Homo sapiens: one gene and its partners. The protein of the gene in region 1 purifies or fractionates together with the protein of each later gene. This does not show direct contact. Each region holds a gene or a part of one and is shown on either strand. Other genes may lie near its edges.

Region 1 (7,103 bases):
CAATATCCTTGGTACTGACAGGTCAAAATACTTCAATATAATCCTATTAACTTTCTGTTTTAAATACTTAAAAAAATAAAATGCATATCCTTTATGGGAACTTCAAAAATATAAAAAAAGTACACAGGAGAAAATTCCATGACCCATAGCTTCCTTTTAGATCCTGCTAATCTTTAAAACATGCTTTTGATAAACCCATGAAGACTTTCATTCAGGATGTCAAGAAAGTCATCTCATCATTCTAAACAGTGTTAAAATAACCAATACAACCTTACTCAACGGACAAAATTAACTTTTTAAATGTAAACATATGAAATTGCTGCCCTGCTCAAAACCTTTGTTTCCCATCATACTTGGAGTATAATCCAAACTACTAGACCTGCCTTACAAGGCACTCCATGATCTGTCTCCTGCCTACCTCTCCGACTTTACATTGCATGGGTTTCTGCTCCAGTCATACCAGCCTTCTTATTACTCCTTAAACTTCACAAGCTAAGTCCCACCTCAGGCCTTTCTCAGTGTTGTTTCCCTCTGCCTGAAGTAACCTCACTCCCCCACTTCACTCAGGACCCTGCCCAGACATCATCTCCTCAGAAAGGCCTTTCCTGACACTGTATCTAAAATTATCTCTCTTCCTCCCTATTACCTGCTTTAATTTTCAGTTACTTCCCAAAATATTTATCCATTACTTATATATTGTTTGTCTTTTATCACCAAATTACAAGTTTCATAAGAGCAGGGTTTTTTTACCTTGTTCACCGCCTGGAACACACTAGCTCAATATACATTCAAACGAATAAATACATGAACAAATGAACTATAAGACACTTAACATAAGTTATTCCAATATTCACTTGCTTTTACATTGAAATAGAAAGGAACTGTCAGCTAATGTGATGAAAAAAATGTTTTACTTAAGTACTTACTCGGCTGATCTGCGTAAGTTCTCAGAGGCACTGCAGAAAGTCCCTGTAGGCCATGAGATATTCGATTGAAATGGCCTCTCTAGAAAAAGAAAATGTCCCTATTATGTAAGATATGAATTCAAAACATAGAACTACTGAAGGTTGATGATAACAGAACAATTTTGGGCAAACGTATCAAGCGAGGATTATTAGTGTATCTTCTTCCATTGCCACACAGAAGCTACAGATCAATATCCCCTCTTTGACAATAACTAATCATTTAAATTTTTCAGCCTCAGCTTGCCACACCCATCTTTTTATTATCAATAGTCAACAAATCATCTCATATTTAACTTAATTTTAAAAACGTATTCAATGGTATTTTTATTCAATTTTCAGAAAACATGGCTAATTATTAGTGCCAGGGATCATTTTAATGTCATAAAGCTCTGAGCCGGCCGTGGTGGCTCACGCCTGTAATGCCAACACTTTGGGAGGCTGAGGTGGGCGGATCACCTGAGGTCAGGAGTTCGAGACCAGCCTGGCCAACATAGTGAAGCCCCGACTCTACTAAAAATACAAGAAAATTAGCCGGGTGTAGTGGTGGGTGCCTGTAATCCCAGCTACTCGGGAGGCCAAGGCAGGAGAATCACTTGAACCCGGGAGGCGGAAGTTGCAGTCAGCTGAGATAGTGCCATTGCACTCTAGCCTGGATGTCAGAGTGAGACTCCGTCTCAAAATAAATAAATAAATAAATAAATAAATAAAGCTCTGAAAGTTCTAACTTAAATACTTGAATAATCTATACATGATAATCTTTTTACCTGTAATTTTTGTTTCCTAACTCTAAGCTAGCGTGTATATACAGTCCGTATTTACTTAGAACAATCTATGAAGATGTTCCTGAGACATCAACTAGGAATAGCAAATTAGACAAGGTAACTTAGGAAAATGCACCAAGTAATGTACTTACGTTCTGGTGCTACTACAGTTTGACAAATTGCATCATAATCTCCCTAATCTCTATATGTGGACGGCTACCATTTCCTAAGGGCAATGAGGCAGAAAGCAAGCAAGCAAATAACCCCTGCTCACAGCAGGAAAATGGGCGGCAGTGACAAAACCTACACTGATGTTTCCTATTCCAAGGCAACTCTTAACATTTGAGGTCAGGACAGCAAACCCAAAAAGCAGCAGATTGACAATCCTGAGTTTCAGTCCCACCTCCGCCGCTCCCTAAAAGCATGACTTGCAGAATGTTACATTAACTTTTGAGAACTCAGGTTCCTCATCTCTGAAACAAAAGGGTTTGATCGCTATATTATTTTTAAGGTCTCCACTAACATAGTACCCAGCCACGGTGCCACATACACACAATTTGGCTGTATCTGGTAAGCAGATTAAAAAGGAGAGTTGTTCTGATAACCTGCTGCAATTAAAGATTTAAGCCTCCAGGAAGTCGTGAGAGATGGCAATGAACACCAGTTGAAAGCTGCCAACACTGACAAGACCTTAGGGGAATTCCGAGGGCTATCTGTTGGAGCTGACTGGATCTAAACCATTCAAGAAGTGACCCCAGGGTTACCTGCCCACTGCATAAACTTAGGCCACTCAGGGATCAGAATTAGGATGAGAAAAAGGCAAATGGTATAAAAAGCCAGACTATACGGGACATGGGTGGCTTACACTTCCTCCAAGGTAGAGGCCTATGTGTGACCGGGATGGCCCTCGGCCCAGGCTTGGGGGTGTGGCATGTGTGACCGCCGGCCGTCACACAACCCGAAAGGACTCGCCACAGCCTGGGCCCAGCCCCGTCCCTCGCCTGCTGCAGGATGAGCGGCCACCTCGGAGCCCAGGGCCGGGCTGAGCCAGTGCAGAGGCGGGGCCAGGGGTGGTGCGGCCCAGGCGCCCGCCTCCGCCAGCCCAACACGGTTAAGCCGCGTACCGGACCCACTGAGCGGGACCTTCCGTGCCTCTGGCTCAACACGACCTCACCTACTCGGCCCTCACCTTGGCCAAGGAGCAGTACACACGACTCCAGCTCTGCATTTTTCCGCTGTATTTTCCTTTCCGCCAATACTTTCACCTCCGCTGGGCGCCTCCGCCGCTCCGCCAAGGTCTCCCCTCCCTGCGCATGCACAGGCGCAGCCTACGTCATCACCCGGGAGCAGCGCGATTGGCCCGCGCGGTTCTACCGCACGAGGCGTTCCTGTCAGGCTCGGCGTCGTACGCTGTCGTAAGGAGCGCAGGGCTTTGTCGCAGCGGGGGTGGTGGTGGGAATGCTTTAGGGGCTGGTGCCAAAATGTCGAGCTACAATGTATTCTTATACTTAGAAGATGAAATAAACAAATAAAACTAGCGTTTGCTTAATGCACATTATCGACAGTAAAGCGTGACAAGTTCAACAAGCTCTTGGTTGTGCTAGGCATTCCTCGGCACTTCCTACAGACATCTCATTTCATCCTTGCAACAACCATATGGAGTATTATTAGTATTTCCATTTCTTGGATGAGACCCAGAGAGGTTAAACAGTGCCCCCAAGGTCTCACAAAGGAGAGATAACTGCGGCCCTGAGGCCAAAACCTTTGGTATTATCTACTGCTTTATACTCGCTCCTCTCAAATGCCATATAAGGGATGGGGCTACAGATTTTGGCATCACCAGCATTCTGCTCTAATTAGCTAACTGACAATACGTAGAGAACACACTTTCTTCTATTTCTTTAGTTGAGAAACACATCTCCCTGGTAAAAAGAGAGTGGGATGGTGGATGAGATTTTAGGTTTTGAGAGAGAATCTGTTGAAAAGGGTTGAAAAACATTGTCTTCAAGATTGAGCACGAAAGTCTAAGGTCTCATTCTTGCCTTGCAATAAGTCTATATAGTGTGAATAAACTTAATTCTACATTTATTGGAAGTCTACCACCCAGGCCTTGTGCTGGGCTAAACACTGGTTAGAAATTACTGCCTATGTTCAGATTTAGATATGAATAATTAAATTTAGTGTTTGTTATAGAGACGGTATTGCTGGCAGCTCTGTCCTGTGACAGGGTCCCAGGCTCCTTTTATCTCGTGACTCTGCCATCATCAGAGCTTGCCTTGCATCTTTCATTCAAGATGGCTGCTCCAGTTTCTACAATCATATCCCCTCATTCCATCTGATTACAAAGCCACACCTAGCTGCAAGGGGATCTGTGAAACATAGTCCTGTCAGCTGAGTGCCTAACTGAAATTGTATTAATAAGCAAGATGAGATGAAGCGAAATTGGGGGACATTGAGCAGCCTCCACCACACAGATGGGGAGAATTGTCTCCTCTCCAGCTTCATGGCAGTCTTTGACATCTGGTCTAGGAGTTACTGCTCCATATGCACAAAATCTCACAATTCTTTCCTGAACTTTCTTGGGCTTTGTTCCCTACTCCTTTGTCCAAAATTACAATATCATATTTTTATTTTTAAAAAATGAAACACTTCCATCCTTTCCAGCTGTCATTCACAAAGCCTAGGGGCTCAACCCAGTATGAGAAGTGAGGCAGGAAATAGATTCCTTACTGCACTCACCATATTTCTCCACATTCCTCCTCATCTCTTGTACCAACTATACCTCTTCTCCTCTCAGCTAGAACAAAAGCCACAACGCATATAAATTAATGCGAACACACGGGAGGTGGAGGGAGCGATGTCAACAATGGACAGCCCACACTAGCAGTGTTTATATTCCAGCTAAGGAATATAACCAGAAATTGGACCACACTTATTTTGCTAACTTGATTTTTTTCACTTAAAACTATCTCATGAGCAACTTTCCATATTCATATTGTGTCCAGAATTGGTGGGTTCTTGGTCTCACTGACTTCAAGAATGAAGCTGCGGACCCTCGCAGTGAGTGTTACAGTTCTTAAAGGCGGCGTGTCCGGAGTTTGTTCCTTCTGACGTTTGGATGTGTTCGGACTTTCTTCCTTCTGGTGGGTTCGTGGTCTCGCTAGATCAGGAGTGAAGCTGCAGACCTTTGCGGTGAGCGTTACAGCTCTTAAGGCAGCGCGTCTGGAGTTGTTCATTCCTCCTGGTGGGTTTGTGGTCTCACTGGCTTCAGGAGTGAAGCTGCAAACCTTCGCTGTGTTACAGCTCATAAAGGCAGTGTGGACCCAAAGAGTGAGCAGCAGCAAGATTTATTGCAAAGAGTGAAAGAACAAAGCTTCCACGCTGTGGAACGGGACCCAAGCGGGTTGCCACTGCTGGCTCAGGCAGCCTGCTTTTATTATCTGGCCCCACCCACATTCTGCTGATTGGTCCATTTTACAGAGAGCTGATTGGTCTGTTTTACAGAGAGCTGATTGGTCCATTTTGACAGGGTGCTGATTGGTGCGTTTACAATGGCTGAGCTAGACACAAAAGTTCTCCAAGTCCCCGCTAGATTAGCTAGATACAGAGTGTCGATTGGTGTATTTTCAAACTCTGAGCTAGACACAGAGTGCTGATTGGTGCATTTACAAACCTTGAGCTAGATACAGAGTGACGATTGGTGCATTCACAATCCCTTAGCTAGACGTAAAGATTCTCCAATTCCCCACCAGATTAGCTAGACACAGAGTGCTAATTGGTGCATTTACAAACCTTGAGCTAGACACAGAGTGCCGATTGGTGCATTCACAATCCCTTAGCTAGACATAAAGATTCTCCAAGTCCCCACCAGATTAGCTAGATAAAGAGTGCCGATTGGTGCATCCACAAACCCTGAGCTACACACAGGGTGCTGATTGGTGTGTTTACAAACCTTGAGCTAGATACAGAGTGCCGATTGGTGTATTCACAATCCCTTAGCTAGACATAAAGATTCCCCAAGTCCCCGCCACATTAGCTAGATACAGAGTGCCAATTGGTGCATCCACAAACCCTGAGCTAGACACAGGGTGCTGATTGGTGTGTTCACAAGCCTTGAGCAAGACACAGAGTGCTGATTGGTGCACTCACAATCCCTTAGCTAGACACAAAGGTTCTCCAAGTCCCCACTAGACTCAGGAGCCCAGCTGGCTTCACCCAGTGGATCCTGCGCTGGGGCGGCAGGCGGAGCTGCCCGCCAGTCCCGCTGTGTGCCCGCACTCCTCAGCCCTTGGGCGCCAGTGGGCCAGCACTGCTGGGGGACCTGGCGCACCCTCTGCAGCTGCTGGCCTGGGTGCTAAGCCCCTCACTGCCCGGGGCAAGTGGGGCCGGCCAGCCGCTGCGAGTGCAGGGCCCACCAAGCCCACGCCCACCCGGAACTCTAGCTGGCCCGCAAGCGCTGCACGAAGCCCCAGTTCCCACCCGCGCCTCTCCCTCCACACCTCCCCGCAAGCAGAGGGAGCCGGCTCCAGCCTTGGCCAGCCCAGAAAGGGACTCCCACAGTGCAGCAGCAGGCTGAAGGGCTCCTCAAGCGTGGCCAGAGTGGGCACCAAGGCCGAGGGGGCGCCGAGAGGGAGCCAGGGCTGCAAGGGCTGCCAGCACGCTGTCACCTCTCAATATTAGCCTACTTCTAATGACTACTGAGTATTTTGGGACATACCCTAATTTATTCAACTATATTTTATTATTAGATATGTAAGCCATTACCAATTTTTCAATATCGTGATTAGCTTATCACTAAGTCTTTGCACACATTCTTTATCATTTCCTTGCAGTAAATTCCCAGAAGTGGAATTGCTAGGTCAAAGACAAAGCATATTTTAAAGATTTATATTGTCTCTCACTTATTTTATTTTATTTTATTTTTTGACGGAACCTTGCTCTGTCACCAAGCTGGAGTGCAGTGGCTCGATCTCAGCTCACTGCAACCTCTGCCTCCCAGGTTCAAGTGATTCACCTGCCTCAGCCTCCCAAGTAGCTGGGATTACAGGTGCCCGCCACCACGCCTGGCTAATTTTTGTATTTTAGTAGAGACAGGGTTTCACCATGTTGGCCAGGATGGTCTCCATCTCCTGACCTCGTGATCCACCCGCCTCGGCCTCCGAAAGTGCTGGGATTACAGGTGTGAGCCACCGCACCCAGCCCACTTATTTTAATTCTTAACAGTGGTTACCTTAAATGAATCAGAAGTTCTAACTGGCAGTTTAAGGGGTTCATTAAACCCCTTAATTTAAGTGGGTTAATGGAGATGAGTTATTCATTATACATGCAATAAGTCAGGCAATCAAAATATTTGAAAAGCATGGTTTTTCAAAACACT
Region 2 (7,719 bases), on another chromosome or scaffold:
TGGTGGTATGTGCCTGTAGTCCCAGCTGCTCAGGAGGCTGGGGCAGAAGAACTGCTTGAACTGGGGAGTTTGAGGCTGCAATGAGCTATAATGGTGCCAGTGTGCTCCAGCCTGGGTGACAGAGACCCTGTCTCAAAACAAAAACAAAAACTGGGTGCGGTGGCTCACGCCTATAATCCCAGCACTTTTGGGAGGCTGAGGCAGGCAGATCATGAGGTCTGGAGATTGAGACCATCCTGGCTAATACGGTGAAACCTTGTCTGTACTAAAAATACAAAAAATTAGCTGGGTGTGGTGGCGGGCGCCTGTAGTACCAGCTACTCCAGAGGCTGAGGCAGGAGAATGGCGTGAATCCGGGAGGCGGAGCTTGCAGTGAGCCGAGATCGTGCCACTGCACTCCAGCCTGGGTGACAGCGAGACTCCATCTCAAAAAACCTCAGTGGTAGTTGTCTGCTATCTAAGGCTAACAATAAAAGGCTGTTACAGAGCTGTATGGCAGGGCCACCCCTGTATGGAGGGCAGACTCCAGACCTGTAGAGCCATCAGCATGCAATACTTGCCTGAGAGAGCCCAGGTACCTCTCTTCAACTGCTGAGAGCTGCTGGGTTGGAACTGTGCCCATCAAAACCATGGGGTAGGGCTGCCCCGGGGCTTTGGGGGTCCAACCCCCAGCCCAATGCATCCTGAAGGCAAGATACTGAGTCAAGAATTATTCTCAAGCTTCAAGAGTTAATGTTGTTGGCCTTTTGGGTTTTTAACTTACTTGGGACCTATTACTCCTTTCTTCTTGCCTATTTCTCCCTCTTGGAATGGGAATGTCAGTCCTGTTCCTGACCCATCATTGTGTTTTGGAAGCACATGTATTTGATTTCACAGGCTCACAGCTGCAGGAGAAGTTGCCTCAGGATGAGTCATGGCCTTGAGTCTCATCCATATCTGATTTAGGTGAGACTCTGGACTTTATAGTTTTGAGTTGGTGCTGGAATGAGTTGAGACTTTTGGGGCTACTGGGATGGATAAATGTATTTTTGGGTTTTTTTTGTTTGTCTTTTGAGACAGTGTTTCCCTTTGTCCCCCAGGCTGAAGTGCAGTGGTACGATCTTGGCTCACTGTGAACAACTTCCGCCTCCCAGGTTCAAGCAATTCTCATGCCTCGGCTTCCAAGTAGCTGGGATTATAGGCATACACCACCACGCTCAGCTAATTTTTTTTATTTTTAGTAGAGACAGGGTTTCACCGTGTTGGCCAGGCTGGCCTGGAATTCGTGACCTCAAGTGATCCGTCTGCCTCAGCCTCCCAAAGTGCTGGGATTACAGGTGTGAGCAACAAGCGTCCGATAAATGTATTTTGCATGTGAGTAGGACATAAATTTGGGGGGCCAAAGGCGGTAAGCTATGGTCTGACTGTGTCCTTCAAAATTCATCTATTGAAAATTGCTAATGTGACAATACGAAAAGGTATTGGAAATGATTAAATCATGAGTACAGAACCATCATGGATGAGATTAAGGCCCTTAAAAAAAGGTTTGAGGGCCAGGCACAATGGCTCACACCTGTAATCCCAGCATTTTGGGCGGCCAAAGTGGGCCGATCACCTGAGGTCAGGAGTTCAAAGCCAGCCTGTCCAACATGGCAAAACCCCATCTCTACTAAAAATACAAAAATTAGCTGGGTGTGGTAGAGGGCGCCTGTAATCCCAGCTACTTGGGAGGCTGCAACAGGAGAATCGCTTGAACCCAGGAGATGGAGGTTGCAGTGAGCCGAGATTGTGCCACTGCACTCCAGCCTGGGTGACAGAACAAGACTGTCTCAAAAAAAAAAAAAAAAAAAGTTTGAGGGAATGGGTTCCTTCTCTTCTGCCCTTCTGCCATGTGAGCACACAGTGTTAAACCCCTCGGATGAAGCAGTGTTCAAAGCACCATCTTGGAAGAAAAGACTGAGCCCTCACAAAACACCGAAACTGCTGGTACTTTGATCTTAGACTTTTGAGCCTCCTGAACATGAGAAATAAATTTCTGTGGTTATAAATTACCCATACTAAGGTATTTTGTTACAGTAGCACACATGGACTAACAGAGGAGCTAATCAACATTTATAGAATACTCCACCAAACAACAGCAGAACACTCTTTTCAAGTGCTTACAGAACATAAACAACATAGACCATATCCTGGATGACAAAATATCAACAAATATAAAAGAATTGAAATTATACAGACTGTGTTCTGACTACAAGGGAATCAAATGAGGAATCAGTAACAGTCAGATAACAGGAAAATTTCCAAATACTTGGAAACTGAACACACTTTTAAATGAGGCATAGGTCAAAGGAGTCTCAAATGAAAATTTTCTAAAAAGCATTGAACTGGGCCAGGTGCGGTGGCTCACACCTGTAATCCCAGCACTTTGGGAGGCCAAGGTGGGCGGATCACCTGAGGTCAGGAGTTTGAGATCATTCTGGCCAACACGGAGAAACCCTGTCTCTACTAAAAATACAAAAATTAGCTGGGCGTGGTGGTGGGCACCTGTAATCCCAGCCACTCAGGAGGATGAGGCAGGAGAATCAGTTGAACCCAGGAGGCAGAGGTTGCATTGAGCTGAGATCATGCCACTGCATCCAGCCTGGGTGTCACAGCGAGACTCTGTCTCAAAAAAAAAAAAAAATTATCGGCTGGGCACGGTGGCTCACACCTGTAATCCCAGCACTTTGGGAGGCTGAGGCGGGCAGATCACGAGGTCAGGAGATGGAGACTATCCTGGCTAACACAGTGAAACCCTGTCTCTACTAAAAATACAAAAAAAATTAGCCTGGTGTGGTGGCGGGTGCCTGTAGTCCCAGCTACCTGGGAGGCTGAGGTGGGAGAATGGTGTGAACCAGGGAGGCGGAGCTTGCAGTGAGCCGAGTTGGCACCACTGCACTCCAGCCTGGGTGACAGAGCAAGACTCTGTCTCAAAAAAAAAAAGAATTACCACAGATGAATGGATAAGCAAAATGTGGTATACACATATAATGGGATTTTTTCAGCCTTAAAAAAGAAATTCTGACACATTCTACAACATGAATGAACTCTGAAGACATGCTAAGTGAAACAAGCTAATTACAAAAGGACAAATACTGTTATGGCTCCACGTACATTAAGTACCCACAGTAGTCAAATTCATAGACAGAAAGTAAAATGATAGTTGTCAGAGGCTGAGGGAAGGAGGAATAAGTTTTTGTTTAATGGGTACAGTTTCTGAAGATGGTAACAATTGCCCAACAATGTGAATGTACTTAATGTGACTGAACTGCACATTTGAAAATAATTAAAATGGGGCCAGGCGCAGTGGCTCACGCCTGTAATACCAGCACTTAGGGAGGCTGAGGTGGGTGGATCACTTGAGGCCAGGAGTTGGAGATTAGTCTGGCCAATATGGTGAAACTCTGTCTCTACCAAAAATACAAAAATTAGCCAGGCGTGGTGGCGGGCGTCTGTAATCCCAGCTACTGGGGAGGCTGAGGCTGGAGAATTGCTTGAATCCAGGAGGCAAAGGTTGCAGTGACCTGAGATCACGCCACAGCACTCCAGGCTGGGCAACAGAGCGAGACTCCGTCTCAAAAAAAAAAAAAAAAACCACAAAAACAAAACAAAACAAAACGGGTTAATGGCCTCTCTGTAGTCACTGAATCCCAATAGACCATACCTGGGTTCAGTAATTTATATTTCTAAAAAGATCCCAAGACTTAGAAATCACTGATGTATATCATCAAACACATTGGTCAAGCTTACAATACTATATATAACCTAAGCATTATCACAGAACGTAATGTAACTTTTTTTTTTTTTGAGACGGAGTCTCCCTCTGTCGCTCAGGCCGGAGTGCAGTGGCACACTCTCGGCTTACTGCAACCTCTGCCTTCTGGGTTCAAGCAATTCTCCTGCCTCACCTCCTGAGTAGCTGGGACTACAGGCGCCCGCCACCACGCCCGGCTAATTTTTGTATTTTTAGTAGAGACAGGGTTTTACAATGTTGGCCAGTCTGGTGTCGAACTCCTGACCTCAAGTGATCCGCCCGCCTCAGCCTCCCAAAGTGCTGGCATTACAGGCGTGAGCCATAGCGCCCCGCCCGTAATGTAATTTTGGGGGAAAGATATGAGTGGCTTACATTTCAAATATTTCTGAATTTTTGAGTTATCTCAACTTGAAGCAAAGGCCCAGCAGTTCGATATCAGGAGTAATAAACGGTAAAGAAAACAGAAACAAATTACAATCAAGCAATGCCAATCAGCAAGAGAGTGTGACATGGCCCTTTTTAAGCCAGAGTAAACTCTTGTGAGCTTGCCACTAACTCCCATTTTAACGAAATTATTCATTTTAGGAAACCGCAAGGTTTTTTTTTTGTTTTTCTTTAATTTTTTTAATCTTTGCAAGAGCTGTCAGATAAGAAGGTTGTATTATTTATTTGGTTCCAGATAAAATTTTGAACTATATCGAAATTATAGACTGGCTTTCTGGAAAGGAAATGGTCCTAGACAATTTATAGGCTAATGAGCAGAGACCCACCTTAACAAAATTTTGTCCCCAAAACGAAACAATAGAACACACGTGGGTGGATCCTAGTAGGGAGAAGGGGTGGGCGGGGTCAGGCACAGGGGGCGGAGCCAGCCCCACGGCGGAGGAGAGCCCAGTCCGGTCTCCGCCTCCGTGACGTCCCGGGAAGCACCGCCCACAGCTGCCCGGGACTCCAGTGATCGCCGCGGCTCGCTCGCGCCCCGGAAACTGCCCCTTCTCGGGGGTCATGATGGGCAGCAAGATGGCGTCTGCTAGTAGGGTCGTTCAGGTAAAGCAATTTGTCGCGTTTCCGCATCTTGGGCGGTAGGGACGGTGCTGACTATGGCGACGGCGTCGGGGAGTAAAGGCGGTGGCAGAGGCAGAGCGGTGACCGCGCCTCTGCGGAGGGCCAGTGACGGCGCCCGCGGGTGTGTGTGAGGATGGGACTTTGAGCCTGTTGGACCGGGCAGTGAGGTGGGTCCGGCGCCGAGGGTTCGAGCCTTGCGGCAACCGTGCAGCATCTTGGCAGGTAGGTCCTGTACCTACTGCCGGGATCCCCCGCTCCTCCGCCAGGACCTTGTTAGTCTTAGGCGTGTGCGGGTGAGGCGACCCTGGCGGTAGCCTGGCCAATCGCCGTCTAGGATTGGCTGTGGTGCCCCCGATCAGCCAATCGGAAGGAAGGCGGTAGCGGGGCGTGGAAGGAAGCGAACCCTGGATCTGACCCACTGTCCCTTCAAGGTCTCGGGAATGGTCGGGCAACTGGCCCCGCGTACTGCGTCCTCGCCGGAGCGGGTTCTCCCCAACCTCTCCAAGCGTCTGGCTACAGGCCAGATGAGGGAAATAGAAAAGTAAACTTAAGTTTAATTAGTATGTGTGTGTGTATATTAATGTGTGTGTGTGTGTGTGTGTGTGTGTGTATAAGCGTTGGTTTCACAAGCCTATTTTCCCCTGGTTTAGATAGACAGCTAAAGTAACTTTGTTAATCCACCTATCAGCTACTAACTCCTGATAGCCTTTTTATTTGTTTCTTCAGCTGTGGTTCTAACTTAGGTAAAATTATTATATAAGTGGAACACAACCTCCACTTTTGTGGTTGGTTTACATAGTCTTTGAACCCTGAAACTATATTATTTTATAATTGACTTTTATCTTTGATATGAGAAGTACATTCCGCTTTATATAAGTACATCTCTTAAAAGACCTTTTTCTAAATTCCTGAAATTGTTGTCTGAATGATAATCCTAGATCCCAGTCTTTGGTCCCATTGCAATGAATGATCCTTACTTATTCAGTAGGTAGTTACTGAGCATCAACTAGTTAAAGATTCTGTAAGGACTGAGAGACTGACAAAGGTCTGTTATCCATAATATATAACCATATGTATCAATAATATATAACAATTTAAAAATGGGTAAAAGACTTGGCGTGTTGCACAAAAGATACCCAAATGAGCAATGAACATTTTAAAAGGTGCTCAATATCATTACTTGCCAGGAAAATAAAAATTAAAACCATGAGGTCCTACACATCCACCAAAATGACTAAAATTTAGACGTCAGTGGTGATGAGAATGTGAAGCGTCTGAAACCCTCAATATTGCTGGTGGGAATATAAAATGTTATAGCCACTTTGGAAAGCTGTCAGTCTCTAATAGTTAAGCATGTATCTACCGTATGACCCAGCAATTCTACTCATAGGTTTATTGCCCAAGAGAAGTGAATGCACATACTGTCTCTGTACGTAAATGTTCACAGAAAAAAAAGAGTTACTAGCAAAGAACTGGGGTCCAGAGCTGAGGGGTTCCAGCCTGGCAGCAGGAGTGTGGCATCTCAGCAGGCAGGTACTATATATACTGCCATGGGGTCCCTGGCTCTATTTCTGATAGCCCCCAAACCACAAACAATCTCTATGTCTGTCTTTTGCATAAACAAATTGTGGTAGTTTGTTAAAATAGTACAGTCCAAAGCAATACTAACAGCTGATGTGTGCAAACAAATGAAGAAACTGTGAGATATACAGTAAGGAATGGTCTGTGCCCTTCTAACATAGGAACAAAGACCTGTACTCACCTATTTAGAATTCAAATCAGGTTCGTGATTGCGCTCTTAAAAAAAAAGAAAAAAAGAGAGAATACAACCAATATGCTAATATAATATCACTTGAGCCTAGGAGTTTGACGCTGCAGTGAACCACAATCACCCCACTGCACCCCAGCCTGTGTAACAGAGCAAGACCTGGTCTCGAAAAATAAATAATAAAGTATGTGCTAATATTATGTAATAATTACATATAACATTAGCAAAATTTGTTGAGTATCTCTGTGACAGGCCTATAAAGCTAGGACTACAGTGCCAGTTAGAGTTTAGGCCAGGCTCACTGATGTATGCCTGTAATCCCAACACTTTGGTAGTTTGAGGCAGGAGGATGGCTTGAGCCCAGGAGTTCAAGACCAGCCTGGGCAAAATAGCAAGACCCCATCTCTATAAAAATTTTAAAAAATTAGCTGAGCATGGTGATGTGCACCTGTGGTCCCAGCTACTCAGGAGGCTGAGGTGGGAAGATTGAGCCTGGGTGATCAAGGCTACAGTGAGCCATAATCATGCCACTGCATTCCAGCCTGGACAGTAGAGCTAGACCCTGACTCAAAAAAAAAAAACAAAAAAACATAGAGCTTAGAATTTGGTTGTTGATCCATATCTTGAAGGAAGAGAAGAGTGCCAAAAGACTGATTGGTACAAACTGATAGGAAGTCACAAAGCGTGGTCTCAGAACATTAAGTAAAGACAAAGCCAGCTGGGCACGGTGGCTCACACCTGTACTCCCAACACTTTGGAAAGCCAAGGTGGGAAGATTGCTTGAGCCAGGAGTTCAAGATTAGCCTAGGCAACATAGCAAGACCCCATCTCTATAAAAATTAGCCAGGCAGCCGCCCCGTCTGGGAAGTGAGGAGCGCCTCTGCCCGGCCGCCCCGTCTGGGATGTGAGGAGCGCCTCTGCCCGGCCGCCACCCCGTCTGGGAAGTGAGGAGCGCCTCTGCCTGGCCGCAGTGCAATCTTCCAAGTGTGAAGTGACAGCCTTTCTGCAGGTGTACCCAACAGCTCTGAAGAGACAGCAACCATCGAGAACGGGCCATGATGACGATGGCGGTTTTGTCGAAAAGAAAAGGGGGAAATGTGGGGAAAAGAAAGAG
Region 3 (7,023 bases), on another chromosome or scaffold:
TACAAATTCAAATATATCATCAAAATATATTCTTAAAATATGCATAAATGTACTCTAACATACTATCTCCTTTTTTAAGTACTGGTAACTACCCACCTATGGGTTCAGACCCACAAATGAAAAGCTCTAGTTACAATGGCCTTCTCTTGGTTTCTAAAGTATAATACTTTGTGCTTTATCACACTTCAGGCCCTTAGCTCTTGCCATTCCTTCTCACCTCTCATTTCTAGATTAGCGAGCTCTTCATATTTATAAGCACTACCTCCTCAGAAAAACTTTCCTCAAACACCCAGCATGGTAGGTTTTCCCTGCTATGTCCTCTTACCACTTAATTCTTTCATAGCACTTATCACAATCTATAACATTGTTTATTTGTTTAATTATTTTCCATCTCTCCACTAAAATTTAAAACTCAGTGAGGGCAGGGTCTTTTTTGGTCCTGTTAACCAGTGTATTCCTAATACCCAGAACAAATCTGGCTCCTGGCAGGCATTCAAATAATTCTTAAATGAAGAGATACAAAAGCCCACTGAGTCATTTATGCAAATCAGATGGAGTGGCGGTCTTCTCCACAATTCCCAAGTACAGCTTCCACTTTTCCCTCAACCTCTCATAAAGTCACAGAGTAAATAGAAGGTGAGTTTATTTCTCCAGTCTTGAAATTAACAATTTTCAAGAAAACAAATTATTAGAATAACTGGTGGAGTCACAGACATATTTCTAGCTCCATTAGGTCAAAGGAAAGGAAAGAGGACAAGGGTAGAAAGGAGACAAGCCCTCTAAGAAACTGTCCATTCAGTCTGTCTGCAGTCAATATGAAGAGATAGCCTTTGGAGCTACAGAAAATATTACATTGAAGTGGATTATGCTTGCTGTTAAAGAAGCTGGTCCAGCCGAGCAGCAGCAGAAGACGAAGACTCAAATGTCCATGTAGAGCATCATGGTCCCTGACCAAAGAGACTTCTTCTGGTTCCTCTTGCTCTCCTCACCAAGAGCACAGATGTGCCCAGCAGCAATATGACAGCAAATGTCTCTATGGCTTCGGGATGAAAATGTCCACACACTTTAAGACCCGAGAAGAAATGGGGAGTGCTCCACACCCAAGGAACTGAAGCTAGGGAAAGACAGTTTTCTTGTGTTTCTGTCATAGAGGTGGACTGATGCTGAAGTCAACTGGTCTATACCAATCTAGAGCATCCACTAGGTGTAACAAGGTGTCTGGTTGTGCACGGGTTGGTGAGGCAGGAGGGGCCAGACCAGCACAAAGTCAGGGCCCTATTCTTCTAGTGTTGGGTCCACTTGATGCTCTTGAGGTCAATGCCATCCTGAACCATCTCCCAGAGAGGGCTGCCAAAGAGAAGAGGCATTAAATGAGTGAGGGCTTAGATAGGAAGTCGACAACATTGGCCCCAAGGCTCTGAGCAATGGCTTGCCTCCTTCTGTCCCTGTCTGTCCTCTGCCTCTTGCCCTGGTAGACCCTAACACAGGTGGTTAAGGTATCCTGAGCTCTCCAGCTCCCTGTAAGTCCTTGTCAGCTCTCCTGAGAGCTCTCCCCAACTGCTAACAGGAATAACTAGGTTCCTCAGGCTCAATTGCAGTGGGGCCCTGAGCCAATGGACACCAAACATGGTCATATTCTTGAAGCTTTCATCCCACTGGTAAGAGGCTATGGCCATGGTTTCCCTTGGAGGAACCAAGACCCTTGAGACTTGTATAAACATCTAGTTTAAGCCTCTCTTCATATGACATGTATAAGCAGCTCGTTTCAGCCCACCACATATTACCCGCTTTTCAGCATTTGTTTCTTGGTTTTGTTCTAGTTCCCAGTTAGGGGTGGAACTTAACCCTACATCATCTTGGTATGCTGTACCCTTACCCAGTTCTTGCCCGTTTCATCTCCCCAGAGTTGGCCTGTGCTTCCAATATCCCTGGGTCTAATCCAAAAGAATTCCTTGGATCTTAGACCTGAGCATCCCATCTCACACAAGAGCTGCTGCTAAGAAATCTCTGCTAAGCTCTGATCGATCCCCAAGCAGAAGCTTGGATATCTTGGATAATGTTCCCAGACCAGATATTACTTCAGTGTGCTATGAATATGGGATTTTACAGTTTAGATTTCACCAGGTAATTTTATCAAATTTCATTATATTCTTGACTTGTCCCTCTTCTATATACTAAACATTCCCAGAATGCCTTTCTATTCATGAGATTTTCCATGGCCCTTAAAGTTAGCCATCTCCTTCCTGTCCTTCCTCTTTAGGGAAGACCACTTATTATTATAGGCTCACAAAATAAGACTCTGAGAGCTAATAGGACCAGGCTGCATTCAGTTTGTAAAGGGTCAGAAGGAATAGGGTGCAGATGCCGAAGCCACATAGATAGGAAACAAAAGGCTTTGCTGGCCACGTGGTCAGTAGAAATGCCTTGTGAGTATACCACAGAATACCAGAAAGTGAGGACAAAGGAAGGGTCCTGCAGTTGAGCAAGCTATAGACACTTAAGCAATACAGCTAGACCCTACAAAGAAAAATCCAGAACACAGAAAGGCCTGGGAGAGCTCATAAAGGGAAGCAGAGTATATACCTGAAATTCCTCTCTCTACCAACTAGATCAAGAGAATCCTGAAAGTCAAGGTTAACCAAGACAGAGCCAGGCTCTGAAAAAATCTAGAGGCCTCAAGGTTCCAGGAGGAAGATGAGCTCTGTGGCTACTAGGGGAAGCCCTGGTGCCAGCTGACTGGCCAAGGATCTCATTACCTTTATAAACACATTGATTGATTGATTGAGACAGAGTCTTGCTCTGTCGCCCAGGCTGGAGAGCAGTGGTGCGATCTCAGCTCACTGCAAGCTCTGCCTCCTGGGTTCACGCCATTCTCCTGCCTCAGCCTCCCAAGTAACTGGGACTACAGGTGCCCACCATGCCAGGCTAATTTTTTTGTATTCTTAGTAGAGACGGGGTTTCATTGTGTTAGCCAGGATGGTCTTGATCTCCTGACCTCATGATCCGCTCACCTCGGCCTCCCGAAGTGCTGGGATTACAGGCGTGAGCCACCGTGCCCAGCCACAGAAAATATATTTTTAAAATTAGCTAGGTGTGGGGGCACACAGCTGTAGTCCTAGCTACTTGGGAGTCTGAAGCAGGAGGATAACTTGAGCCCAAGAGTCCAAAGTTACAGTGAACTACAACTGTGCCACTGCACTCCAGCCTGGGTGACAGAATGAGACACTTTCTCTAAAGATAATAATAATCATAATGAACAATACTACCTGGGCCAGGTGCGGTGGCTTGTGCCTGTAATCCCAGCACTTTGGGAGGCCAAGACAGGAGGACTGCTTGAGCCCGGGAGTTTGAGACCAGCCTGGGCAACATAGCAAAACTCCGTCTCTACAAAAAATACAAAAACTAACCAGGCATAGTGGCACATGCCTGTAGTACCAGCTACTTGGGAGGCTGAGGTGGGAGGATCACTTGAGCTTGGGAGGCACAAGTTGCAGTGAGGTGTGATTGTGCCACTGCACTCCAGCCTGAATAACAGAGCAAGAACTTGTCTCCAAAAAAAAAAAAAAAACTACTACCTGCATTACCTGCATTCATCTAGTTCTTTAGTTTGTTGTTTTTGTTTTTGTTTTTGTTTTCTTGAGACGGAGTCTCACTCTGTCACCCAGGCTGGAGTGCAGTGGTGTGATCTCGGCTCACTGCAAGCTCCACCTCCCAGGTTCACGCCATTCTCCTGCCTCACCTCCCGAGTAGCTGGGACTACAGGTGCCCGCCACCACGCCCAGCTAATTTTTTTGTATTTTTAGGAGAGACGGGGTTTCAACGTGTTAGCCAGGATGGTCTCGATCTCCTGACCTTGTGATCCACCCACCTCAGCCTCCCAGAGTGCTGGGATTACAGGTGTGAGCCACTGTGCCCGGCTTTTTTTTTTGGGACGGAGTTTGGCTCTTGTTGCTCAGGCTGCAATGCAATGGTACAATCTTGGCTCAACGCAACCTCCCCCTCCCAGGTTGAAGTGATTCTCCTGCCTCAGTCTCCCAAGTAGCTGGGATTATAGGGATGCGCCACCACTCCCGGCTAATTTTTTTGTATTTTAGTAGAGACGGGGTTTCTCCATGTTGGTCAGGCTGGTCTCGAACTTCTGACCTCAGGTGATCTGTCCGCCTCGGCTTCCCAAAGTGCTAGGATTACAGGCATGGGCCACCCTGCCCGGCCTAGTTCTTTAGTTTTTAAAAACACTTTCTCATTGTGAAGACAAGTAGCCAAGAAGATCTACTTTCTTGCTTTGTGGAATCTCTAAATCCTAAGATCCAAGTACGCTTGAACTTTGGTTTTGGCAGTGTAAACACATAGCCTAAGGACAAGAGGGGAGACAGTGCTAGAGTTTCTTCCAAAGCGTCTCTGATACAATATGTATACCTCATTTCTCGAAGACGCTTCACATGCTGAATGCATTTCTCCACTGTGTAGTCCACTTCCTCCTCTGTAGTGAAGCGGCCAATTCCAAACCTGAAAAAAGGCACAGGAGAATGGCTCCCCATCAGAGCTCTGGCACTGGGATAAATTCATTCCGCAAATACTCACTAAGGATCTACGACACAAAAGATATGGAGAGAAGAACATGGTCCTTCCCCTTTAGGCAGAGTTTCTCAGAACATGGTATATGGATCGGCCGGGCATGGTGGCTCACGCCTGTAATTCCAACAGTTTGGGAGGCCAAGGTGGACAGATCACATGAGGTTGGGAGTTCGAGACCAGCCTGGCCAACATGGTGAAACCCCGTCTCTACTAAAAATATAAAAATTAGCTGGGCCTGGTGGCACATGTCTGTAATCCCAGCTACTCAGGAGGCTGAGGCAGGAGAATTGCTTGAACCTGCAAGTCAGAGGCTTCAGTGAGCTGAGATCATGCCACTGCACTCCAGCCTGGGCGACAGAGTAAGACTCTGTCTCAGAAAAAAAAAAAAGAACATGATCTACGGACCACCAACATTAAAATCACCTGAGATGTTTTCTACTCCTCCTCCGGACCTAGTGAATCAGAATATCTGAATGTGGGACTCAGATATCATATTTCACAAACTTCCCAGGTGATACTCAATGAAGTCTGAGAACCACTGCTCTAGAAACTTTCACAAGGTTATGAGAAGAGATAAGGAGAACTCGACTGAGAAAAACTTCAGGGTGGAAAAAGAAAAAAACTGTAACAGGAGATGAAAAATATAAGAGGATGCCTTTCATAAATGTTGCAGCTCAACTCACTGACCTGATAGAAGAGTGCGCTAAATCCTCATCAGTGCCAATTGCTCTAAGCACATAAGAGGGCTCCAGGGATGCAGAGGTGCAGGCACTGAGGAGAGAGACACGAACCTTGTTCAGTTCATCATCAACGTCTACTTTTAGTCACAAACCCTCAGTCTTGTTCCCATCCCCCAGGGCCCTGGAGTCATACCCTGGAGAAAACAAGAGACCTTCTAATCTGGCAGAACTAAAGGACCTGATGCTCCCCTGCACATCCTAGGATGTGTGAACCTAGCTCCTCTGGCCCCCATGGTGGATGACTTCCTTAAGCAAGGACGCTGGCAAAGTGTGACAGAGCATGATACCACATGGGTTTGACAAGAAGACGCAGCAGAGGACCATGTGCTCACTTCCCCAGGACGTAATGCACCATCTGCACCAGCCTGAAGGGCAGCCAAACACTTAGTGGCCTTTGGAGCATCTTCAATTCTAGAGGCCTGTAACAGAACTGCTAGTGTAACCCACAACAGACACATACATCCCCTGGGACGATAAAAGGCACAAAATTCTACCCCAGGAAGTCTTCCTAGGGTGGTAAACTTCAGTCTGTACCCAGCTACCCAGCCAACCAAAAAAAGAGAGGCACTTACAAAATGACCTTTACCCTTAATCAAGAGGTCTTGTGCCTATCATCTCCACACTGGGAAGTTTAATAGCCTGTATGACTCTTCTAAGTGGCCCTGCCGCAGGCCCTGTCTATGCCGTCCAGCTCACCTCCCTGAGGATAAGGCAACGTCCTTCAGTGCCATCAGCAGACTTTCCCCTTCCACATATGCAAAGGAGAGGTTGATACAGCCTGGAGGAAAGAAATACTGTGAGAGAGGTCTCAGAGTCTCAGCCTCTACCAGAATGAGGATAGAAAGAGCAAGTCCATACCGGGATAATGGTGCTTAGGGTCCCCATTCATCACCACATCTGGAAGGCTCTTCATTATATTCTGTATCAGCCGCTCTGACAACTTTGAGATTCGCTTGTGGTCATACTAAGGAGCAGGCAAGGAAGGATTAGGCAGTAACCATTAACCAGCTCAGAAAGACAGTTTGAGAAGCCCTTCTCCTATAACTGGAAGTGACTATGTATCAGCCCCACCTATCATCCTATGTACTCATGGGGACCACTGTATCTCCAGTACTGAGCATAGTGCCTGGTATGCAAAAGGCGCTTGATAACTGGACACAGGGTTCATTTACTTATCCAGAAATAAATGAGCTGATAACTACTAAAAGGCCATGGGTTTTGAAGCCCATAATGTCTCCCTCAGAACAAGGTGCCAGCAGCACCAGGACAAGGAAGAGTTTTCTTAAGCCCTCTCTCCCTGCAGAGATCTGCCTCAGTCATGCTGAGAAGCCTCTAAATAGGAGACCCAGCACAGGGGAAGAAGTTGTGGGAGGGAACTGCTCTCCCCATACCTCCATCTCTTGCTGTGCCACCTCACACGCAGCCCCCAGCCCCACCACTAAGGGTGTGGGCACTGTCCCAGACCGCATACCCCGCTCCTGCCCCCCTCCACTCTGCAGGGCCTCCACACGCACACGGGGCCGGCGACGGATGTAGATGGCACCAACCCCTGGGAAACAAAATTTGTTACAAAAAACAGAAAGAGAGAAAAGTAGATAAAACAAAATATTTCTTTCCAAAGGGATCAAAATATTACTTCAACTTTTCTGTAAGCATGAAATTTTTCTAAATAAAAAACGTTAAGGAAAAGAAGAAACAGCAGTAAAAG
Region 4 (7,040 bases), on another chromosome or scaffold:
TCCAAAGCGAGAGGAGCCTTCTGAGCAGAAGTATGCAAGACTGATTCTGTTTGGAACAGTTTCCTATTTGGCTGCATTCTAGGAGGCCTCCTGACTTATTCATAGTATTGTCGCCTGGTGGCATTGGTGTGGGGTAGCTTGTCCTGCTACTTGCTAAAGTTCTCTTTCTTTGAGAAAACTGAGGAACCAGAATGCTTAGAGTTCATAAAATAATCTCTAAACCATGTTAGGTTAAAACAAAATGACCATCTCACAAAAACGAGTTTAGTTGAATGCTCAATTCCTTACAAAATCTTCATTTAAGGCTGAGTGTGGTGGCTCATGCCTGTAATTCCAGCACTTTGGGAGGCCGAGGCAGGAAGACTGCTTGAGCCCAGGAGTTCAAGACCAGCCTGGGCAACGTAGGAAGACTCCGTCTCTACATAGAAATTTTATTATAAAAGTAGCTGGGGATGGTGGCACACACCTGTAGTCCCAGCTACTCAGGAGGTTGAGGTGGGAAGATTGCTTGAGCCCAGGAGTTTGAGGTTGCAGTGAGCTGATCATGCCACTGCACTCTAGCCTAGGCTACAGAGCAGGACCCCATCTCCAAAAAAAAAAAAAAAAAAGTCATTTAAAAACTGAAGAATGTTCTCTTCTTGCTCAGTTCCCTAAATTAGCTGGGGGGATTGGGATACTTTACAATTTTTACATTTTTAAATTTGAAGAATTTGTTTTAAACTTACTTGGTAATGGCACTTCTACTTACTGACCAACTTTTCAGCTCTTTTTGACCAGGATGGTTGCAAATTAGGGAAAATATCTTTATACTATACATCCAATTCAAGAGGACTTTAATTACTTAAAAGCATTTAGGTCATAATTAAAATTATTTTCACTGTTTCCATAAAATAAGCATTATGATTGCACACTCCTTCTACTGTCTGAATTTATGTAAGAGGTATAGCTTGCTTAAAATACATATATATGTAAAGTTATATTTTCTTAGAAACATGGATGTTTACAGCCATTGCTTTCAAAGAGATTATTACTGTGTATTCTCCCTGTTTTACAATATGTTTTCATGAAGACTATGTTACACCAGAGGCTTCTGATTATCAAAGTGATAACCAGTTTTAACTGCCGGTATGTACCAGATTTGTGAACTAATTTAAAAAACCACAAACTATGAATAAAATGGGGTTTGCAAACTAAATATCATTAATGATTTTCACTTGCGTTTACTGATGAGATTAATCAATAAAGCCATTTACATTTAGTGAAAGCAAATTTCCTCAAGTGATCTCCCTGGTAGCATGTTTACTCACTATGTGGAGTGGAGATAAGAATTACTTTATTGCTACAGATATTTTACAATTAGTATTTCTATGTAAGCACATAGGCTATTATCAAGGACAATTTATTTAGCACTTATTTTGAAATTATATGTAAACATGCAAACAAATAAGAACCCAAGAGTATAAACTCTATGACAAAAGTCAGTATGCAAGCATTAAGAACTCTTTCAGAAATGTGTATTTAAAATGACCAGAATTCCCAGATCATTTGAAAGCTGCCTCTTAAATGCCTCTTATCAATTCATCTTAAATGTTTGCTATATTAAATTCTTTATCCCTGAGTGCCTTCATTTGACTTCCAATTACGTATTTTCAACTATTAATTGGCTATCCCATTATGTTAAAATTAAATATGTACATAACTCAAAATCTTTCACTACCAACTAATTTCTGTTTCTCTCAATATCAGTGATATCACCATTCTCTTAAGTATCTCTATTTCAAACCTTTGAGTCTTGAGTCTCCTTTTCCATAATTTCCTTTATCCAGTCTGTTTAGTGGAATTCAAGCTTGTTCTCTCAGGACTGATTTGAGAAACCTAAGCATTCCTAGCCCACCTCTGGGGTAAGCTCGCCATCTCTGGACTGTTTGAGCTATGCATTCCTATAATTTAACTACACTTAAGTCAAAAGTATATTCAAGACACAAACTCGCTATTCTTTGAAAAATGCAAAACAGGGTTTAAGCAAGCATACCTAAGTGCACAACAGATCCGGAAGATCACCTCATACTTTATACCAAAGTCTAATTTAGATCCAGTTATTAAGTTCAAATGCAGCAAAAGCAGCAAGATATTTTAGCCAACTCAAAAACATTTTTATAATAATTTATAAGTCCTGGGCGGGCATGGTGGCTCGCGCCTGTAATCTCAGCACTTTGGGAGGCCGAGGCAGGTGGATCACCTGAAGTCAGGAGTTTGAGACCAGCATGACTAACATGGTGAAACCCCGTATCTACTAAAAACACAAAATTAGCTGGGCATGGTGGCACGTGCCTGTAATCCCAGCACTCGGGAGGCTGAGGCAGGAGAATCGCTTGAACCTGGGAGGTGGAGGTTGCAGTGAGCCGGGATCATGCCACTGCACTCCAGCCTGGGCGACAGAGTGAGACTCCATCCCCAAATAATAGTAATAAGTCCTTTCAGTAATTACAATTATTCTTTCATTGCTTCTTCCAATTGTTAATTCATAAGTTGTACATAATTGTAACAATATAATTGCTCTCTTCATATTATTTAAAATATGCCTTTTCATTCAATCTAGAAATTTTATATTTCTCAATTATATTGCTTACATATTATTCTGATAGACAGCTGTACCTGCTTAAACATTCCAATTTAAGTAGGCATGAAATAGTACATCCAATCTGTTTTAGTTTTCCAAATTAATTGTTAGCAAGATTAGCCCCCATTTTTTTTTTTTTTTAACAGATGGGAGTCTCATTATGTTGCCCAGGCTGGTCTCAAACTCTTGGGCTCAAGTGATTCCCCCACCTCAGCCTCTCAAGCATTGCTGGGACTACAGGCATGCACCACCGCTCCTGGCTAAAATCTTGTTTTAAGTTTCTTCCCTCCAACTTCCTCTTGCGTTCTTGGTGTTCTCTAACCATCTCTACAGGGGGGAGGTGGTGATACACAGCACATGCTTCCTCCTTATCTAATGTCACCTTCAGTTCAGAAACGATATGTTTTCTAATTAAAAGACAACTTTACAAGAGAAGCGTGCCTAACAAAATGTGTAGATGACTTTTTATTCATTGATTCAAAAGACATACATTCAGCCCCCGCTATTTACTGGATATTAAGCTCTGGGGCTACATGGAAGGACCACGCAGACACTCTTCATGCCTTCAACGGCTTACAGTTAAGTTTTTCAAACATTTGAAACATAACGAAGCTTTTGGTTACTTAAAAGAATTCTATGGTATTAGGGAGCAACACCTGTTTTGTAAACCTATATCTTCATACAGGGAATATGCTTAATCTTGCTACAGTATACATGAATGCGGGAATGTATCTTCCTCTGGGCTGCCTTTCGTTACCACTTGGCTGGGTGGAACACCTGTTCACTCCACTTTCCACTTGGGCTACAAACCTGAAACGAAATCTTTGCAACCAGTACAGCCTGCGCGGGGCGCGGCCCAGTCCATCCCCCTTCGGATGCGCAGAAGCAGAGGTCACCACGCCGGACCCCTCGATTCCCTCGCGGGCGATTCCTGGCTCCTTCACCACCCCAGCACTCCAAGACCCCCGCCCTTTGGCCTGAGGCTCCCACTGCCCTAGCCAGTTCCCGGGCTCACTTCCAGCTTTTCCAGAAAGCTTGGCCACGCCCCTCGGCCCAGACTCTCAGGCCACTCGGCCGCAATTAACCCGCGTCTCTGCGCCTTTTTAGGCCCCTCCCCCTCGGTCGTGCCCTTGTCATCTCTTAGGCCCCGTCTCACCCTTTCGGATGCCTCCCCTAGAACCCTACCACTTTCCACCCCTTTCCGTCTGTTATTTCTCCCAAACTTGCGCCCGCACAGGCCCCTCTGGAACACTCCTGCCCCGTAGTGCCCCTCGTCCCCGCTCCGTAGAGAAAGAGCGTGCGTGCCGCGCATTTCTGGCCTGGGGAGCGGGTGGAGTAAACCTGCGGGAACCATTTTACGACAACGTGCGGCTGTGCGGTGTGGCTGACGGCAACGCCGCTGCTCTTGGAGAGGTCACTCCGGAGACGGCGTTGGTTTTGGGGTGTGGGGGGTTGGTGGCACTATGTGGCGCGTCTGTGCGCGACGGGCTCAGAATGTAGCCCCATGGGCGGGACTCGAGGCTCGGTGGACGGCCTTGCAGGAGGTACCCGGAACTCCACGAGTGACCTCGCGATCTGGCCCGGCTCCCGCTCGTCGCAACAGCGTGACTACAGGGTATGGCGGGGTCCGGGCACTGTGCGGCTGGACCCCCAGTTCTGGGGCCACGCCGCGGAACCGCTTACTGCTGCAGCTTTTGGGGTCGCCCGGCCGCCGCTATTACAGTCTTCCCCCGCATCAGAAGGTGAGCCCTAGACCCCCCTTCTCGGGACCCCGTTGTCCTTCAGAGCTGACTGGATGCCTGCAAGATCCTCCTTGAGAGGCCTCACTGATCCTCCACCCATTCCCAGTATCTGCTTTGGCCCTTTGTCCAATAGTTGGCTTTGCTGTAGCTCCTTAGTGTCCCTCTCATGATCTATTTCATTGAAAGGAGAGCTTCAAGACTGGGGCTGTATGCAGAATATCTGCCGAGGTTCATGCTTTGTCAGACCCACAGGACTGTGGAGGAGAAAGCCTGTCACTGGAAATTACTAACTTCTCATGGACAGGAACTCCCTTGGCATCCCTAGTTCCCAATGTGCAATGGAACTGTATACACTTTGCATGAAATTGAATTGAATGAAATCTTAAGCCAGACTGAGAGTTAGGTAGTCCTTAAAAATTTTAATGTTTCTTCTTTTCCTTTTCCAGGTTCCATTGCCTTCTCTTTCCCCCACAATGCAGGCAGGCACCATAGCCCGTTGGGAAAAAAAAGAGGGGGACAAAATCAATGAAGGTGACCTAATTGCAGAGGTAAGTTTTTTTTTTTTTTTTTAATTAATTTATTTATTTTTTTTATTGATCATTCTTGGGTGTTTCTCGCAGAGGGGGATTTGGCAGGGTCATAGGACAATAGTGGAGGGAAGGTCAGCAGATAAACAAGTGAACAAAGGTCTCTGGTTTTCCTAGGCAGAGGATCCTGCGGCCTTCCGCAGTGTTTGTGTCCCTGGGTACTTGAGATTAGGGAGTGGTGATGACTCTTAAGGAGCATGCTGCCTTCAAGCATCTGTTTAACAAAGCACATCTTGCACTGCCCTTAATCCATTTAACCCTGAGTGGACACAGCACATGTTTCAGAGAGCACAGGGTTGGGGGTAAGGTCACAGATCAACAGGATAAGAATTTTTCTTAGTACCGAGCAAAATGAAAAGTCTCCCATGTCTACCTCTTTCTACACAGACACGGCAACCATCCGATTTCTCAATCTTTTCCCCACCTTTCCCCCCTTTCTATTCCACAAAACCGCCATTGTCATCATGGCCCGTTCTCAATGAGCTGTTGGGTACACCTCCCAGACAGGGTGGTGGCCGGGCAGAGGGGCTCCTCACTTCCCAGTAGGGGCGGCTGGGCAGAGGCGCCCCTCACCTCCCGGGCGGGGCAGCTGGCCAGGCGGGGGCTGACCCCCCCACTTCCCTCCCGGACGGGGCGGCTGGCTGGGCGGGGGGCTGGCCCCACCACCTCCCTCCCAGACGGGGCGGCTGGCCTGGCGGGGGCTGACCCCCACCTCCCTCCCGGACGGGGTGGCTGCCGGGCGGAGACGCTCCTCACTTCCCAGACGGGGTGGCTGCCGGGCGGAGGGGCTCCTCACTTCTCAGACGGGGTGGCTGCCGGGCGGAGGGGCTCCTCACTTCTCAGACGGGGCGGTTGCCAGGCGGAGGGTCTCTTCACTTCTCAGACGGGGCGGCCGGGAAGAGACGCTCCTCACCTCCCGGACGGGGTCGCGGCCGGGTAGAGGCGCTCCTCACATCCCAGACGGGGCGGCGGGGCAGAGGCGCTCCCCACATCTCAGACGATGGGCGGCCGGGCAGAGGCGCTCCTCACTTCCTAGATGGGATGGCAGCCGGGCAGAGACGCTCCTCACTTTCCAGACTGGGCAGCCAGGCAGTGGGGCTCCTCACGTCCCAGACGATGGGCGGCCAGGCAGAGACGCTCCTCACTTCCCAGACGGGGTGGCAGCCGGGCAGAGGCTGCAATCTCGGCACTTTGGGAGGCCAAGGCAGGCGGCTGGGAGGTGGAGGTTGTAGCGAGCCGAGATCACGCCACTGCACTCCAGCCTGGGCACCATTGAGCACTGAGTGAACCAGACTCCGTCTGCAATCCCGGCACCTCGGGAGGCCAAGGCTGGCGGATCACTCGCGGTTAGGAGCTGGAGACCAGCCCGGCCAACACAGCGAAACCCCGTCTCCACCAAAAAAATACGAAAACCAGTCAGGCGTGGCGGCGCGTGCCTGCAATCGCAGGCACTCAGCAGGCTGAGGCAGGAGAATCAGGCAGGGAGGTTGCAGTGAGCCGAGAAGGCAGCAGTACAGTCCAGCTTCGGCTCAGCATCAGAGGGAGACCGTGGAAAGAGAGGGAGAGGGAGACCGTGGGGAGAGGGAGAGGGAGACGGAGAGGGAGAGGGAGAGGGTAAGTTGTTTTAAAGTAACGGAGATGAGTTCGAAGAGACTGGCTTTGCCTAATTGACTGAACATTGACTTTCTGGATGTGTAGCTACCCCTTTGTTTAAGAAACTGAAGTGTTTTTCACAACTTGATGTTAGACAAGATTGGTTGGATAAGTTGTCAGCAGCTGGCCAAACTGATTTTAACCAAGGCGTTTCTAAAGTAATTTCTTCTTTGAAATCTGTCGTAGTGGCCTTATCTTCACATGAACTGTATAATTCTAGACACAAAGGCCAGGCTGGCCAACATGGTGAAACCCCGTCTCTGCTAAAAATACAAAAATCAGCCGGGCATGGCAGCCTGTTCCTGTAATCCCAGCTACTCGGGAGGCTGAGGCAGGATAATCGCTTGAACCTGGGAGGGGGAGGTTGCAATGAGCCGAGATTGCACCACTGCACTCCAGCCTTGGTGACAGAATGAGACTCTGTGTCTCAAAAAAAAA

Evidence for each region.
Region 2: the proteins of DLD (region 1) and KGD4 purify together in Homo sapiens (affinity purification with mass spectrometry; 4 studies listed by BioGRID and IntAct, with this or other methods). This does not show direct contact.
Region 3: the proteins of DLD (region 1) and NFS1 purify together in Homo sapiens (affinity purification with mass spectrometry; 3 studies listed by BioGRID and IntAct, with this or other methods). This does not show direct contact.
Region 4: the proteins of DLD (region 1) and DLAT purify together in Homo sapiens (affinity purification with mass spectrometry; 6 studies listed by BioGRID and IntAct, with this or other methods). This does not show direct contact.

The regions. Positions count from the first base shown.
Region 1 is NC_000007.14:107,887,102-107,894,204, reverse strand, and holds the start of DLD (dihydrolipoyl dehydrogenase, mitochondrial isoform 1 precursor), read right to left. Parts: upstream 3,023-7,103; 5' UTR 2,955-3,022; coding exon 2,916-2,954; intron 1,006-2,915; coding exon 927-1,005; intron 1-926. UniProt on the Homo sapiens protein: Lipoamide dehydrogenase is a component of the glycine cleavage system as well as an E3 component of three alpha-ketoacid dehydrogenase complexes (pyruvate-, alpha-ketoglutarate-, and branched-chain amino acid-dehydrogenase complex).
Region 2 is NC_000005.10:69,213,053-69,220,771, forward strand, and holds the start of KGD4 (alpha-ketoglutarate dehydrogenase component 4), read left to right. Parts: upstream 1-4,707; 5' UTR 4,708-4,777; coding exon 4,778-4,819; intron 4,820-7,719. UniProt on the Homo sapiens protein: Molecular adapter that is necessary to form a stable 2-oxoglutarate dehydrogenase enzyme complex (OGDHC). Enables the specific recruitment of E3 subunit to E2 subunit in the 2-oxoglutarate dehydrogenase complex (OGDHC).
Region 3 is NC_000020.11:35,668,339-35,675,361, forward strand, and holds part of NFS1 (cysteine desulfurase isoform a precursor), read right to left. Parts: intron 6,865-7,023; coding exon 6,707-6,864; intron 6,280-6,706; coding exon 6,174-6,279; intron 6,094-6,173; coding exon 6,012-6,093; intron 5,347-6,011; coding exon 5,263-5,346; intron 4,507-5,262; coding exon 4,417-4,506; intron 1,348-4,416; coding exon 1,284-1,347; 3' UTR 1-1,283.
Region 4 is NC_000011.10:112,021,390-112,028,429, forward strand, and holds the start of DLAT (dihydrolipoyllysine-residue acetyltransferase component of pyruvate dehydrogenase complex, mitochondrial isoform 2 precursor), read left to right. Parts: upstream 1-4,018; 5' UTR 4,019-4,083; coding exon 4,084-4,362; intron 4,363-4,808; coding exon 4,809-4,910; intron 4,911-7,040.